Linked DNA regions of Homo sapiens: region 1 is linked to region 2. The links come from fine-mapping of genetic effects on gene expression. A gene starts in region 2. The other region holds a variant in brackets. All regions are shown on one strand. Distances are between the middles of the regions. Region 1 overlaps LOC124909438 (a long non-coding RNA gene). Region 2 holds the start of CEP70 (centrosomal protein 70).

Region 1 (2,915 bases), 260 kb before region 2:
TCCTTTTTATTACTTCGTATTCCATGGTCTCAGTATATCACCATTTGTTTCAAATTAATATTTGAGTGGGATATGAGGTTTTTTATTTCCCCATATGGATTTCTGGTTGCATAAGCACCATTTGCTGAGAAGACTTTCCTTTACTTCACTGGATTGATTTGGTGTCTTTGTCAAAAACCAACTGGCCATGTAAGTGTGAGTTTCCTTCAGGATTCTCTAGTCTATTCCGCTGATCTAGTTGACCATCCTTATACCAGTACTTGATTACTAGTTGTATAGTAAGTCTTAAAATCAGGTAATCTAAGTCATCCAACCTTGTTTTTCTTTTTCAAAATTATTTGTCTATTTTAAGTTCTTTTACTTTCATACAAATCCTAGAGTCAATCTGTTAATATGTCTGTCTTTAAAAATCCTCTTGAAAATTTGATTAAATTGCATTAAACCTAAAGATTGACTTGGGAAGAATTGACATCTTAATAATGCGGAGTCCTCCAGTCCATAAATAGGATGTGTGTTCCATTTATTCTTTAACTTCAGCAATGTTTTATAGTTGTTAAACCAATCTTGCAAGTCATTTGTATTCATTATGCTATTATTAATGAAATTGACTTTCAAAATTTATTGCCAATTTTGTGCTGCCAGTACATAGAAATACAACTGATTTTTTGTATATTGACTTTGTATTCTGAGATCTTGCTAAACTCACTTATTAGTGCTGGTAGTTTCTTTGTTGATTGTGAGGGTAACTTTGAAAACACAAGATAGTGAGCCATAAAATGGAAGCAGCTAGTCTGAGCCTAACAACCTGCCTTGGACTGTGTTGCATTTTCTTCGTGTCGTAGTAGTCATTGGGGGTTACAATCAAACTGCTCATCTGTATTGTGAGTCCCTGTAGGGCAGGTTGTCCCAGCTACTTCCTAGTGAATCTTTTTTAATGAACCTCAGGTTTCCATCATGACCTGAACGAATGAGCCCTATGCTGCCCACCATTCATGCTTACTGAGAAGTCAGAGGAGATGACAAGGAGACTTCTACATGTTGTAGAGGAAGCTGACCATAGGTCCCTCCTGTTGACCGATGTTTCTCCATGGGTCTCTCATGCATCTGCATATTTTTCAAGCAGAGGCACTGACTGCTTTATTCCCAACAGCCTTTCCAGGAATGTTTATATAGTGAACAACCTTGAAAGATAGAGGTAGTATCTCCTTCTAAAGCAAAGGAAAGGTTTGTTTACAGCCTTGGAAGTTAGAGATAATGTCTCCTTCTGTAGAAAGCATACTTAACTCTTCAGTGTAAAAGCTTTGGTTTCTTGAAGCTAGGATTCTTCTCCTATAACACAACCTGCTGCATGTGCAGGTGTCACCTGGCCCTCTCTGCATTGTCCTATGGGAATCAGTTCAGGAAACCTATGCAAAAATGCTAATACTTTGGTTATTGCTATTGCTTTGAATAATAAACTATCCTTCATCTCTGACCCAGGAGCGACTTATATGTTCTTTCAGCATCCATGATTATGGAAGAATAACTTGTAAGCTTGCAAGGAGGGTAAAATCTCAGATGATTTACAGTTCTTGACACCTCCCTAGAGGTAATGAACTTTGCCCTTGATTGTTGAGCCTCCTAGAGAGCATGCTCTTCCAACCTCCCATTAGAACTCCTTGCCCATACACTTGAAACTTTTGAGGCAGAGCTAGATTTCAGTCAAGCTACAAAGACCTCATTATCGAGGACCACACTCCTCCAGTGTTTCACCCAAAGTTTCCTGAATGGCTGC[C/T]CTGGAGATTTGAGGGCTTAATGCTAAAAGGCCTTAAGCATTTAGAGATCTCTAAACATCACTAATATTTAACTCAAAGATTTGTGTGCATTTTATGGAATACAACATACCACATCCGTATTTGTTTTAATGTAAAAATAACACTTTAAAATTCTAGCCATCAGGGATTTTAAAAGTGTTTTCTAACTGTCTTGTTTGTCAAGACATTTGACGTGATGCTACTGGATGATGCTACTGGATTTCAGAAAATTGGGCTAAATTAGAGCAAGCAAGCCCTGCATTTCAAATTCAGCATCCAGGCAATTTTTTTCTTTGACTTGGTATTACAATATTTCAAGTACTAAAACTCATGAAAACATGTGACCACAAATGAAGATCATTTTTCCATTGTTTTACAAACTGGGGCTCGGTTACTGAGAGATGCTCAGGAAGCTGGCCCCAGGCTATGGGTGGCAGAATGTCATTGTGACTATCTCCTGTTGAGAGGCCACATTGTTCATGTGGCAGGGAATGGCTCTTACCTAAGCTGCTGCTGCTTTTTTTTTTTTTTTTTTTGAGGTCTCACTCTGTCACCCAGGCTGGAGTGCAGTGGCCCAATCATCATTGCTCACTGAGCCTCAAACTCCAGGACTCAAGCAATCCTTTCACCTCAGCCTCCCAAGTAGCTGAGACTACAGGCAAATGACACCATTCCCAGCTAATTTTTAAATTTTTTGTAGAGACAGGGTCTTGCTGTGTTGTCCAGGCTAGTCTCAAACTCCTGGGCTCAAGCAATCCTCCCACCTTGGCCTCCCAAAGTGCTGGTGAAACAGCTCCGTTGTCTCAGGATTTACCTGTGGTTCTTTGTCTCACGCCAAGAAAGAGTTCAGGACACCGACACTCATGAGAAGTGGGTTTAGGAGTGGAAAGTTTAATAGACAAAGAAGAGGAGAAAGAGAACTTCCTCATACTGAGAAAGCGGGTCACCCAAGAGGGGGTCTTTGGTTTGGGGTGGAATGCGATCAGTTTTGTAAAGAGGATTGAGGAGGCAGTAATTGATTTACATAGGGCCTAGGGGATTGGTTTGACCAGGTATGACATTTTACAGAGCTCACGAAAAGACTGACTCTTCTGCCATAGTCTTTTATTATGCAAATGCAGC
Region 2 (2,915 bases):
CAACCAAATCATTCTGTCTCAGGAGAGGTGACATGAAGGGGCAGAACCTTGCTTTGAAGCAAAAGCTGTAGGGAAAACTCCAAGTCAGCCACCTCTTCCCCAAAAGGCGGGGCAGGGGAGGCCAGAGTCTACTTGGCAATATTTAAAGTACAAAACTCATGCAGAGGCTTGAAACCAATATGGGTAATGCCTGCACAGAGTTTAATATATTATACATATATTTTTGAGACAGAGTCTCGCTCCGTCACCCAGGCTGGAGTGCAGTGGCGCGATCTCGGCTCACAGCAACCTCCGCCTCCCGAGTTCAAGCGATTCTGCTGCCTCACCCGCCCGAGTAGCTGGGATTACAGGCGCACACCACCATGCCCAGCTAATTTTTGTATTTTTAGTAGAGACGTGGTTTCATCATGTTGGCCAGGGTGGTCTCGAACTCCTGACCTCAGGGGATCCGCCCACCTCGGCCTCCCAAAGTGCTGAGATTACAGGCGTAAGCCACTGCGCCCTGCCTGTTTAATATCATTGATTGAAAAACAAAGTGGCAGTAAAAAAGGAAACTCTGATTGGTCTCTCTGTTACAGGTGACTTAGCCTTCTGGCATTTTTCACCTTGAAAAACTCCTATTAGGCCCTGTATAAAGTCAGAGGTCTCCTGAATCCGGAATGAGGTTAATAAACTGGAGAAAGAGATACTCACCTGTGCTATTCGCCTAACCGCCCCCTTCTGCTCCGAGTCCTCACTCCCCAAACAACCTTCGCGGTTGTTTGACACAAAACTAGCGCTTCAGCCCGGGTCGATTTTGGGGGATGGAGTAATTACCTACAGCTTAAATCGAGTCTGTGCCCGACGTGATTCTAAGCTTTACTCTTACTGCCTCATTTAACCCTCACAACCACCTTGTAAGGCAAGAATTACCAGCTTTAGTATACAAATAAAGAATCGGAGGCGCTGAGACATTAAAGGAGAAGCCAAAGAACACAAAGCCTGGGGAGCTGGGACTGGAGGCAGTTTTGTCCGATCCCCAAACCCTTACGCAGGGATTTTTAATTGGCGCGACCCTGTCCCAGATGGCTCCTCCCCGACAAGGGTCAGTCTGACCACTTTTAGGCCCAGGTGAGGTCAAGTCCGGGGTACTCCGGGAAGGGGCTCACGCCGACGCCTCTGAGAGCCCCGAGAGCCACTCACCTTACTCAGTCGCCGGCCTCCCACCAGCAGCCAGCCGGGCCAGGTTAGGCTGGGATCAGCTACGTCAGGCCCCGCCTCCGCGACCGTTACCACCGCCGGGGGAGGGCGGCCAATCGAGCCCGAGCGCGTCGAGGGCCAGCCCCTCTTTGGCCTGCGAATGCCCCCAAACGATTCTCTCCAGCCTCTCCGGGAAGCTGGGTCCGCCCCGCTCCCTCCGGTTGGCTCACTACGGGGGGCGGGGCTTACCGCAAACGAAGGCGTCGGTGCGATGTGCTGGTCTCGGGCACGCTGGCGCTTCCAACGCACTCCTTGGGTGCCCTGTCACTTACATGGAGGCTTATTTGCCCGGAAGACGTCAGAAATACTTGTGGCCGTGGGTGAAAGTGAAGCCTGGGTTACCTGGCCACCAGAGACTGCCCTCTCTCTCGCCCCCTACCCCGCCGCGACTACGAGCCCTTGCTGGGGTACGGGTCAGCATGTTCTCGATGTTCCAGACCTGAATGACCACTGTAGCAGCTGACATTTGGAGGACCCCAATAAATATTTGTTGACGACAGTTCATCTTCCCATTCAGCATTTTCCACATCTCGACGAAGCGTCAGGCCCTACCTGAGGCTGTAGCTGTCCACCATTGTCATTGTATCTTATAGCCACATGGTGTCGCTGTTGACAACTTGTCTTTTCAAATCAGTCAAATGATGTAGGTCTGTGTTACAGTCAAATGTTGCAACAGACTGTGTTGCAGTCAAATGATGCAGGTCCCACAGTAGCCAACAGGGATGTCCCATCTAGGGCATCAGCCAAGGGTCTCTCATCAGGAGATCCAAGGGCTCTTGGAGCTCAATACTTTCAGACCCTTCTTAGCCTTCTTCCAGGCAGCTGGGACTACACTTAGGTTTGATCTCTGTGTTTGCCCCATGCAAACATGTCCCTACCCCAACCTACGCCTACCCACTGTGCTTTCCATACCTGGATATTCACTCTAACGACGGTTAGCAGATTGCATTTTCAGTTCTCAAAATGCAAATAGTCTCAGTGCTTCCCTTTTCCAAGATAATAGGGTGCCCTTGCATACTCTTCTGAGAATGGCTGCCCTAATTGTAGAGGCCAAACATCTTTGAGTCAGTTATTATTATTTTGGATGCACGTGATATAGAATCTGAGTTAAACTGTCTTCCTAAAAAATAAAGAAGTTGCTTATCTCGCATAACAGAAAGCTCAGAGGCAAGGGAGACTTTGATTAATTCAGTGGCTAAGCAAGTTAACAAGGACCCAGTTGCTATTAGTCTCTGCTTTGTTGTAAAAAAAAAAAAGGGTAGACTTCAAATTCATACTAACGTGATTTTCCAGATGTCTACTTGGAGAAATCAGGACCACATACTTTCTTTTTCATCTAAAACCTTTCCTTCTGGTTTTTTGAGCCAATAAGTTCACACAGGCACACACTCTTCCTCTTTACCAGTAACTGCCTGGGAAATGTACAGACAGCTTAAGCCTGGGTTCCAGAAGTGAAAAGGAGCTATGACAATTGGAATTGGCAATGGTGTCAGTGCTCTTTGAGTCACATGAGTTGCAAGGTGGAGACATGGCTATTTGAATAAAACTGGAGACCTGTAAAGGAGAAGAGGAAAATGGATGCTAGATGGATGATCACCAGTATCTTTCACAGTCTTCAAAGCACAAGAAGGCTGATTCCTCTCTATTTTCTAACTGAATTTTTTATGTGGTGAATG

Evidence for each region. PIP is the estimated chance that this variant, and not a neighbour inherited with it, causes the effect.
Region 1: its variant is the best candidate, but not a certain one, in a credible set for the expression of CEP70 in adrenal gland (GTEx, PIP 0.63).

What each region holds. Positions count from the first base shown.
Region 1 is chr3:138,333,788-138,336,702 of GRCh38, forward strand. The region is part of intron 1 of LOC124909438 (a long non-coding RNA gene); the gene reads left to right. Among named protein-coding and RNA genes, the nearest start is that of NME9, 5.4 kb to the left of the region's middle. The variant C/T (reference allele first, on the strand shown) is at 1,775.
Region 2 is chr3:138,593,016-138,595,930 of GRCh38, forward strand. It overlaps CEP70 (centrosomal protein 70), which reads right to left and starts at 1,245. Exons shown (of 18, transcript NM_024491.4): 1 at 1,183-1,245. RefSeq lists an enhancer at 1,450-1,509.